Linked DNA regions of Homo sapiens. The protein of the gene in region 2 purifies or fractionates together with the protein of the main gene of each other region. This does not show direct contact. Each region holds a gene or a part of one and is shown on either strand. Other genes may lie near its edges. The genes, in order: TEX264, MYOF and NCAPD3.

Region 1 (3,650 bases), on a different chromosome or scaffold from region 2:
GAAGCCTTCCCTGGACACTCATTAAGACTGGTGAATTTGGGGGCCTCTGCCCATTGCTCTGGGCTCACATCTGGGCCCCATCTCCCCTCTGCAGGTTTGCAATTTCAAGCAAGCTCTGTTCCATCCTGCAGCTTCCAGAAGATACCCCTTTCCTGGGACTTGGGGAGTGGTCTCCTCCTGTACTAGAGGCCACCTCCTTGGACTCCAGCGGAGCAGCCTGACAAAGCTGAGGCATCTTCCATATGGAGTGATGGTCACACAGTACGCATGGATTCCAGGGGAATGAGTGTTCAGCCTGGGGGCCCTTAGCAGTTTATATGGAGAAAGGCAGAGTTCCAGCATCTATAGCAGTTTGCCAGGCTGCCAAGCTGGGGAAGGCTAGCCAGAGAGCCAGAGGCTGCCATGCAAACCAGGAAAGCTGAGATCAGCCATCCCTTCCAGAATCCCGAGAGTCCTGACAAGTGCTTCTCCTTGGGCCTCTCGCCGTGAACTTCAGGTCCCTCTGTCCCATGAGACCAATCCTGTTCCAGGCTCAGGCACATCTGCAACTCCCGGGACAGCAGCTGCTCTCCACCTCCCAAACCCGAAGCTAAGATCCATTCACCCCTGCCCCTCACCTAGCCTCTGGAGAGGCTGGTGAGCCTGCCAAGTCCTCCCCCCGCAACTCCTGGCAGCAGGGCTCCTGGCCTCTCTCACCCCTGCCAAAGCAGAAAGCTGACGGCTGCTGTCATTCCATTTGAAGAGCCTTCACAGCAGTCCCAGATCCAGAGAGAAAAAGAAGGGTGTACACACGCGCACGCACACACAGTTAAAAGCTGTCGGTGCTAGAAGAGTGAGACGCAACTAGTCTCATTAGTAATCTCCTTTCTCTGACCTCAGGGCAGGGGAGATGAAGGCAGGGATGGAAGGGAGCCTTATACTCTCTCCTTGCTGTCTCCTGGGCTGAGAGAGGCACAGGGCCACCCCTGTCCACTGCAGGCTGTGACCAGCAAACAGAGCTAGCCCCTTCCTCATCTCTCCCCTGGCTTTGTTCCCCAAGACGCAAGGTCAGGCTAAACACAGGGGCAGAGGCAACCCCCACACCCTGCTGCCAAAACAAGCCCAGGACCTTCGGCCATGCCTCTTCTGTGGGCAGCCGGCCTCTATCTTACTCTCCCCGCTGATGGCCAAGCCCACACAAGCATGCCTCACACCTGTCTCTGGGAGAAGCCCCTTGCTCTCCCCCATATCACTGGCTTCCTTGTCTCAACCCCCACTCCAGGAGCACAGCTGACAGGCTCCCATGGGAGCGGGGAGGAAGGAGGAAGGGCTTTCATCAAAGAGGTGACGTCAAAACCAGGCAACTTGTGAAGCTGTCAGGGGCCGGGAAATTTGGACAAAGGTGTCTAAAAATAAACCCCTGAAGCCAGGAAAAGGCTTTGGTGGCTGAGTTGCTCACCACCACACCACATGCCACATGTCCTGTTCTGAGGTCTGGAACCCAAGAAGTCTCTTTCCCAGGGGTGCCCCTCCAGATGGGCCCATGAGGTTGAGGATGGCACCGACAGGACTGGAGAGGCCTTCCTTGAATGAAATGGGGCGGGACTCCCCAGAGGCAGCACACTAAGCAGGCCTAGGGCACTGGTATCTTCCTTCCTGCCCACACCACCAGCCAGCCCGCCCCCACCTCCAGTCCAACCGCAGCCAGGCAAGCACATCCTGCCCCACACCCCTTTTGGCCACCACCCTCCAGCTCACAAAGGAAACTCCCCTCTATTCTCCCTGTGCCCTTGCCTTATCACCGTGACAGCCCTCCCCTTTCCAGGTCTTCTCACTCCTGATTCTTCAAACCTGTCTTTGACCGCCAAGGACACAGCTGGTGACCCAGGGCCTCATTTATTCATTCCTCAGCCCCAACACCAGACTCCAGGGACATCTGAACTCCCATTTCCATCATCAACGCTGTGTCCCTTTCCCCAAGCTGCTTTGGTGAACAAAGTTGCAAGGATCCTCCAAGTGTACCAGGCTCTCACTCCCACTGACTCTCGTCCTGTTCCCTGACCCCTGCCACACTGGCCACGCCCTCTGCGCAGCCTTTGCTGCCACAGGCTGTCCACTGCCTACCTGGTCCCACAGAGGCAGGGAGGCACAGGGCAGCCTCCCAGGTCAAATACTGCCAACAGGCTGATGTCCCCAAATATATCCACCAGCCCAGCCTTTCCTCAACTCCAGGCCACACATACCATTGCTGACTCCACACCCCCCAACTTAGATGTATCTCAGGCAGCTCCCCTGACATAGCCCAAATAGCTACCTTCCCCCCAAAACCAGGGCCTCCCTCAGTTCCCCACATGTCAGTGAAAGCATCACTACATACTTGCCCACCTGCCCAGGCCAGAGGGGAGCAGAGCCCTCTGTGACTCCCTCACTGCCTCTCCTTCCACAACAGTGAATCCACCCAAAGTCTATCAGTTCTATCCCAAAAGTGATTGTAAATCTCCATCCTTGTCCACAGCTCTATAGCCGCTGGGCCTGCCCAAGCTGCCACCACTCACAATGGGATTCATGACAGCCTCCTAGGCTAATTCCTTAGCCCCAGGCCTAAGCATCTCCACCTGGTCCCAGATCTGTGGTCCAGTCCCACCCTGCCCAGAGATGGGACAGCTCATCTTGTACAGACGTGGCTCCAACTGTGTTATTTTCCTGGTTGGAACACTGCAGTGACTTCCTGCTGCATTTAGACCAAAGCTCTGACTAGAAGTTCTTATCTCCTCTCTAAAGGCTCTTCTAGGACTCTGCCTTGAGGTTATCTCCTCTGAGAGGCTGTCCCTGACCATTCTGTCCAAGTTGGTTCCCTGACTTTTCTCACCCTCTCCTTCTCTAGCACACGTCCTATTTTTGTCTGATATTTATTACCTATCTTCACCACCTCACTGTGAATGGCTGTTTCATGCACCAACGTTTCATTCACATTGTGCCCATTATAGCACCTGGCACACAGACTATAAATACAAGTTAAATGAATGAACAATCACGTCCAAGCCCAAACTGGGGTCATTTCCCTAGCAACCAAGTTTACAAAACGTTTAGGGGAGGAGGGATGTGTAACAGGGCAAGTTTTAAAAAAATTTCTGTAGACACAGAAACCCGTCAGATGACCAGGTGACTGGCTCTCCTTCCTCCAGGAAGGTTGGGCTGCCAGCATTGCCAGTAACCAAGTCAGGAAGTAAAGGAAACAGAGCCTGCCACTGCTGTCCCAGCCCTGGCCTCTGGGAGCAGATGTATAAGCCCATGCACAGGCAGGGCCACGGGCAATACATGATTACCTGGGGCCTGCCCAGACACTGGGAGCCTCAGGTCCTTGCTTTGCAGGCCTCCAGCAGGATGAGAATAAAGTGGCCTGTCCATTCATCTGAGCCAGGAGTGTGGGATAAGCACTATGGATGTCTTTGGTCAAAGCCAGAGCCAAACTAACCAGATCAGATTTATGAACAAGTTCTCCATGCTCTTGGGATATGCTCCGGCTTCCAAAAGATCTTGGGCATCTGAAAGAGATGCCAACAACCTCTGCCCATCTTCCTAGCTCCACAGGTACCTGTTCCATGAGGGCCCCAGGGTGCTGCTCTCCCAAAACCACTTCTTCCTCCCATTCTAGGCAGTCCTCCTCAGCT
Region 2 (3,650 bases):
GAACTCTAATTAGTAGGCTTATTTTTCACAGTGGTTTATCTACAGATTTTAGGATTGAACCAAGGAGTAAATATATTGAGGATAACAAAGGCCAGATTTCTCACTGTTGGAGAAGAAAGTTAGAGACATAGAAATACAGAGGACTAGGATAAACCTTGTGGTATTGGACTGGAATTGGAAGTATCTTTATGAAGTCATAGCTTTTAATATATTGATAGATATAGAAATAAATAGACATACATGTGTCTGTGCAAATTCGTTTGCTGAGAAGGCCTAGAAGCAATGATATTTCAGTAGTAGTGAGCACTGTATACCCAGATTTTGTTTCTAAAATGCTATTCCCCACTCAAAGGAAAAAGCTGCTTGGAGAAATAGCGATTTACGGACTGGGGCAGAGAAAGTACAAGATAAGCTCAAAACATATGGTTCTATTCCATTGAGCACCTGCCAACAGAGAAGTTGAGGAAGAGCCTACCATGACTGTCAAAAGTCCTAATCAGGGAAAAGGGAAAGCCACCATCCTGTCCAGATTAGGCAGCCTGGTCAGTGGAGAGAGCTGATAAGAAGAACCAGGATGAAAATTGCTGAAGAGCATCTCAAACACAATTAGAACACAGGTGCAACTAATTCTCCACAAATGCCTTTGAGATGTACATTGCCTATCAATTGCAACTTTATTTTCAGGACAGTTATGATTAAGTCAATTTAAACCTATAGTTATCCTCCCAGATTGCCTTTATAACATAAAATGATATTTCAGATTTTGCCGTCGAGTTTTAGATCAAGTATACTCCTGAAACCCCATATGTTTTGGTCCAGCCCTGGTAGAGATTAGATCTTTAAAAAATTAATATTAACATAATGTTGAAATCAAAACACCAATGCCAGATGGATTTTAGCACTACCTGATAGGAGTAACTTAGTATATGTGTATATGTGTGTGTGTATGTGTGTGTGTGTATATATATATATATATATATATGTATATATTTATCTTTTTAGACAGAGTCTCAATTTGTCCAGGCTGGAGTGCAATGGCGCCATCTTGGCTCACTGCAACCTCCGTCTCCCGGGTTCAAGTGATTCTCCTGTCTCAGCCACCCTAGTAGCTGGGATTATAGGCTCACATCACCATGCCCAGGTAATTTCTTTTGTATTTTTAGTAGAGACAGGGTTTCACCATGCTGGCCAGGCTGGTCTCTAACTCCTGATCTCAAATGATCTGCCCACCTTGGTATCCCAAAGTGCTGGGATTACTGGCGTGAGCCACTGCACCTGGCCCAAGTAACTTAGTATTTTTGCTTAATTAGAAATATCACAGACATATCCCCCTTCTCCTCACCAATCTAGTTGACCAATGTCAACTAGACAGATAATCACAGATATCATATGTATGCAGTTTTCACCCAAGGAAATCCCCAACCTCCAAACAAAAGAAGTTCCTCTAGTCTGCAGCAAGAGTGGAATGTGTCAGACACTGGTTCCTCAAAGCTACCTCTTCCTGCAGTGGAGATTTCCACTGCAAAGTTCTCAGAGTTTCATATTGCTATTGGAATGAACCATTCTCTCTACACAAAAATTACGGCAGAAACTATGAGTTCCTGTTCCACCCCACTCCTACCTTTTTAATCCTCCCCTCTTCCAAAGTAAGAAAATTTTTATCTGGGCATATGCCTGCCCAGGCATAAGACTAACATTTTCCACCTTCGTTGGAGTCACATGTGGCTGTATGACTGGATTCTGGCCAGTGGAAAGTGAGTAGAAATTAAGAGTATGACTTCTGCATCCTTCCCTTCAAGAGAAAGGCCTATGTCATCTTCTCCCCACTGTTTACCAGCCCTCCCCTCAGGCTGGAGGGCAGATGTAGTAGTGAGCTGCCTCTACCATGCAGACAATGATAACTCCTGAGTGATGGCAGAGCAACCGGGGGTAAGAGCCTGGGTCTCCAATACCACTGAACCTCCATACTAACTTAGGACCATCTACCTCCACTGTTCCTAGAGACATTGCTCTTACCTTATTGATCACTGTACTAAGCACTTTCTTGTGTTATAGTGGCCTGGCCTCCATCCTAATACCTAATTCACCCTGCTTGGTGAAAAGGAAATGCAGAAAAAGAGAAACTTACCAGCCGTTCTGCCATAGCTAGGAGAGTGTTCACCGCATCCAGGCGATGACTAATATCCTCCCAGTATGAAGTCAGGGTAACAACTGGCTTGGTGTGGGCCCAAGGCAAGTAATAATAGTAGTTGCCTGGTATAAAACATTGGGGGTCAATGAACACTGAACACTTAAAATAGACAGCATGTTTATTAAAGAGATGTGCAGACTGAGCTGCTGATTAATCCACAGGCTTGGGGAATAGCTTGAGGTGGTCTGGTTCTTTAATTTGACTCAATTAAGCAACTGAAGACTAGGAAGCTCTTTTTCATTCAGGCTGTTCTGAAATTTTCTCTGAGACACCCTAGTAAACTGAGCACAGCAATCTCAGGATCGTTTAGTGATTCAGGGCCATGCATCTGAACATCAAAGATGGTTTCTTAACGTGGTAGTAGAAAATACAGATGACATAGGAAGCTAGACTGAACATGTTAGTCCCTAAAAACTGTTATTCTAAATAAATGTTTTTGTTGGAACTGGGGCAAAAGAAAAGAATTTTCTGTTCTTGGAAAGCTTTAGCTGGCTACATAGGGTTTGGTACTAGAGCCTTACTGTGATTAAGAATTATTAGCTGATGTTTCCTAGGATGTCTTACATTTTAAAACTGCTTGTACAAAAATTAAGTTAAAACTCTGGCAATACTGTTGGGAAATTTGATCAGTATTCCTCTCTCCCTTCTCTGTACTCTCAAACCATTTGTTGACAGTTTTATTGGAAGTTCTCATACTTTGCTTTCTATTATGATTTATTTTATACACTAGAATGTAAGCTCCTTAAAATCAGGGACTGTTTCTCACCCATCTTTGTTCAAATACAGCTATTTAATCCTCATGTCAACTCCAGAGAAGACGAAGAAACTGAGGGTTAGAATTCAGTGACACGGTTAAGGTCACAAGCTGGTGAGTAACAGAGTGAAGACCAGAAGCATGATTTCCCAGTAGCTGATCCAGAGTCCCATTCATTTTCCACTACTCAGCCTAAGAAAGATTTGGGGCTTCGTAGGGGTAGGAGCTGCTTTGCGGAGCTCAGAACTTAGCACAGTGGCTACCTTGGGGTCTTACATGGCAAAACCATTGTTAAAGCTGGGTGGGGAGAGGGTAGCATTGGGGTTCAGCCTCTGGCAATGGGACCTGCAACTTCTTGGGTCTGGCCAGTCTTTAAGGTGCCTGAACCCCAACCACACTCTCTTCCTCATTCAACCTTTTCCTTTCCACTAACCATAGGCTGCGTAGAACAGTGCCAGAGGGAAGACACAGTGCTTGCTTCCGGTCCCGTGGTGCACCCATTGTAAACGTGTGGAGAGAACTGTTAGTGCCAATCTTACCATCAAATACAGCACGGCTGTACTGAGTTGTTGATGCCAAAGGCTTACAGGTGGTGTCAAACTTGTTGCCATAGTTCCCAATGCTGACTTCAAACTGAATGGCCTCACCAACATCTTGCAACATGGTGGCTGAATGAAACACGGCAGACAGGCTGTACTTCCGCCT
Region 3 (3,650 bases), on a different chromosome or scaffold from region 2:
GAAAGGCAGCACTCCTAAGCTCCGACTCCGATGCCTGCTCTTTGACTCCACGGCTTTCTTGACAGAATTCAGGATTGCAATGGTGCTCAGGGACATGGGCCTGTGGAGAACAGCCACAGCCGCTGACTTTCTCACTGCAGACCACTGCAGAGGTGACAGTGCTGCACTGTGTCCCCGCGTGCCTCCTCACCGGCGCATCCCTCACCACCCTCATTCAAACCTCCCAGGGCACAGTGTGGAGCGGGGTGGCAGGCCAGACAATGACAATGACTTTCCTGCCCACGCTTGGGAATGGCAGGGACGCCTCTGAGAACATCGCCACAGAGAACCAGCCCTGATGTGGCCTCCAGGGGCTCTTTACCTGGCTTTGGGCAGCAACCTCTGCAATGGCCCTGTTTCAGGTGTAGGAGATGATACTGCTACATGGCCAGCACTTGCCCTGGGTGTGCAGGGCTGGCTCACGGCAGGTGACATGGCAGGGTTTTCTTGGCCAGCAGGAACTGGCACTGTTTCTAAACACAGGGCAACCTGGTAGAGAAGATAAAGAGTATGTACATTCTAATACTTTTTAAGTTTTCAAAAACGGATATATGATAGTTGTACATGGTTGGGGGTCCATATGAGATTTTGATACATGTGGACAACGTAATGATCAAATCAGGGTAATTGGCATCTCCATCACCTCAAACGTGAGTATCTTTTCTTTGTGTTGGGAACATTCCAATTCTTCTATGTACTTTGAAATATACAGTAAATTGTTAAACTGTAATATCTCCACTGTACTGAATACTAGAACTTATTTCTTCTATCTAACTGTATTTTGGTACCCATTAACCAACTTCTCTTCATCCCCCTTCTCCCACCCCTTCCCAGCCTCTGGTAATCACCAAAAATCCACTCTCTAACTCCGTGAGATCAACCTTTTTGGCTCACATATATGAATGAGAACATACAATCTTTGTCTTTCTGTGTTTGGCTTATTTCACTTAATATAATGTCTTCCAAGTTCATCCATGTTGCAACAGATGACAAGATTTCACTTTTTATAGATGAAAAGTACTCCACTGTATATGCACCCCATTTTCTTTACCATTCATCCACTGATGGACATTTGTTTCCAAATTTTGCTATTGTGAACAGTGCTGCAATAAACATGGGAGTGCAGGTATGTCTTCGACATCCTGATTTCCTTTCTTTTGACTATACAGTCAGCAGCGAGGCTGCTGCCTCATATGGTACCTCTACTTTTAGTTTTTTGGAACCTCTATACTGTTCTCCATAGTGGCTGTTCTACTTTCCATCCCTACCAACAGTGTACAAGCCATTCCCTTTCTCCATTTTAACACTTTATTGGAATAGAATCTTCACGTACTATGAGCAAGTCCATAAGTAATGTACTTTGAAGCCATATCAACCCTGGGTAAGTTGAATTTCCTTTTCAGAAACAGAATACTATGAGAAAGCTGCCACTTGTAGATGCTGTGGCATGACAGAAGAGAAAAAGGAGTATGCTACTTTGTGCTCATTGGTCTTTCCTACAAGAGATCTGCCTGCATTCCTCAGGACGGTGAGCAACAGCTACTCCTAGAAATGGCCGTGTGCCGGTCTGCTCTAAAGAGGGAGTGCTGGGGGAAGATGCGGACACACTGACACACCCTGGCAGACCTAGGATCTATAGTCACCAGCTACTGCTGCTGCCAGCTCGCTTCCTGCACCACGTCCTCATGGAAGGGAGGTCTGGAGCACAGTAAATCCATCACAGACAGAAAGGCACGAGGGAGTGGCCAACAAGCAGCACTCTCGAGGCCTTCGGGCTGACTAACCTCTGATGACGGAGATCTTGAGAGGTGCCAGACAAACGACAGACTGGTAGCAGACAGCAGACTGGACTGTCTGGTCACAGTGCAGTGGGCCCCACACCTACCTGTGCCACAGGTGCCACCTCAGCACCTCCAGCCGTCCCGGCCACATCTGCATGTTTTGCTAGCTCCTGCTCCTGGACCAGCTGTTCCTGGTACTTCTTCATGTCATACTCAAGCTCTGATGCCAGCTGTTTGTCAACTGCAAAGAAGTCCTTGAGCTCATCTCGGTAATCCTGCATCACCTCCTGAAACAGAGCCAGGAGCATCCTTTCATGTTTTCTTGAATAAAAACGTAAAGCCCTAAACCCCCACGACACACCTTCGCCTGTGTAACAAACCTGCACATCCTGCACGTGTACCCCTGAACGCAAAATAAAAGTTAAGAAAGAAAAAAGCCCCCCAAGTCATGTTGCTTGATAAATCATAGGAACAATAGGACTGACATTACTGAAAGCAGATGATTTCCATTCCAGTAACTAACAGGTACAATGGTATATTTGGAGCAAACACCACTGGCCACACAAGCAGAAAAATATGTGAGTAACTAACAGTTCTCTCTCTTAGGAAGCATCCTGGCTATGTGGCAGTTAATGGGCAATCTCTCCCAGGTTCCCAATGGGAGAAAGACATGCTCAGACACAGCCTCTGGAGCAAGTCCCAGGATGCATGGATCTAAAAGCTGCTCATCTGTCTACATTAGCCTCCCCATTGGCTCTCAGGGGATTCCAACTAAGGCTCAAATCCCATCTTTGTGTCTTCTTCTGAAGATTTTACAGAAAACCTTTTCTCATACCTAGGGAAAAACATTCTTAGGTCTTAAAGAGGGGTGCCAGGGGCAAGACCACTTTGCTAAGAGAAAGAATCATTCCACCTAACAGTAATAGGGAGAAAAAGACACTGCAGTTCCAACTGGGAGGGAAGTCTCAACAAAGAGAAGGAATCCATGCACTTTTCCAGCTGCCACTAGGAGTGGGTTCCACAGGCCAATGAAGAGACTCCCTCAAGCTACTGACAACAAGCAACGTGTGGCCATCCTGTGTGTGTGCTCACAAGCAGGAGGAAGGCTTATTTTTCTTAAGTGTTTAAGTAGTCTATGTAGGATCAAAGCTCTGTTTTTGTTTTTTTTTTTCCTTTCTAGGGTCTAAAGTCAGGCAATAAATACAAGAATATTTGGAAGTTTTTATTTTTATCATACAATGAGACTATCTTTCCTACCTTGGCTTCCTAGTATAAAAAGCTATTTGAAAATTTATATTCAATGTAATTTTTGTTGAGGCCTTTATTGGAAAAAAAATTGTAGCATTTTTTTGAGGAAGAAAAACACATAATGTGAACAGAGCTATAACTGCTGAATTAAAGAAAAACTATGTTGCATTTATTTCTTAGTAAAAGATTTTGCAAGAAAGGTCTGAGGCCCCACTTAGGTCCGCCCTGCAAGTCAACACATCCTGGGTTTGCTCCGACTGAGCTCCTCATGGTCCCCTTGCTTGACAAAGAATTCAGCCTGGTGATGGCAGCTCCGAAGGCAGCTCCTGCAGGGCAGTTATTTCCTGACCTTGTGAATCTGAGTCAGTGCAAAAGGTAAGCACCCTGAAATCAAACCCGAAGACTCACTTTCACCTTACCCCCAAGCAGCATGAACGAAGATGACTGTGTTCTTGACCCCAGCTGGGAAAGTTTTCCAGATGGACTTGAACTCCATTAAGGGAAGACGTGCTTGGCACAGTGGGCCGGCTCTTCACGGCCCTGGCTGCACATCCAAGGGAAAGAGCGGCTTTGGTGGAACCC

Evidence for each region.
Region 1: the proteins of MYOF (region 2) and TEX264 purify together in Homo sapiens (co-immunoprecipitation; one large-scale study listed by IntAct). This does not show direct contact.
Region 3: the proteins of MYOF (region 2) and NCAPD3 purify together in Homo sapiens (co-immunoprecipitation; one large-scale study listed by IntAct). This does not show direct contact.

The regions. Positions count from the first base shown.
Region 1 is NC_000003.12:51,684,689-51,688,338, reverse strand, and holds part of TEX264 (testis-expressed protein 264), read right to left. Parts: intron 3,525-3,650; coding exon of another isoform or gene 3,465-3,524; exon of another isoform or gene 1-3,464. UniProt on the Homo sapiens protein: Major reticulophagy (also called ER-phagy) receptor that acts independently of other candidate reticulophagy receptors to remodel subdomains of the endoplasmic reticulum into autophagosomes upon nutrient stress, which then fuse with lysosomes for endoplasmic reticulum turnover.
Region 2 is NC_000010.11:93,377,735-93,381,384, forward strand, and holds part of MYOF (myoferlin), read right to left. Parts: coding exon 3,485-3,650; intron 2,254-3,484; coding exon 2,129-2,253; intron 1-2,128. UniProt on the Homo sapiens protein: Calcium/phospholipid-binding protein that plays a role in the plasmalemma repair mechanism of endothelial cells that permits rapid resealing of membranes disrupted by mechanical stress. Involved in endocytic recycling.
Region 3 is NC_000011.10:134,157,968-134,161,617, forward strand, and holds part of NCAPD3 (condensin-2 complex subunit D3), read right to left. Parts: intron 2,108-3,650; coding exon 1,925-2,107; intron 529-1,924; coding exon 362-528; intron 101-361; coding exon 1-100.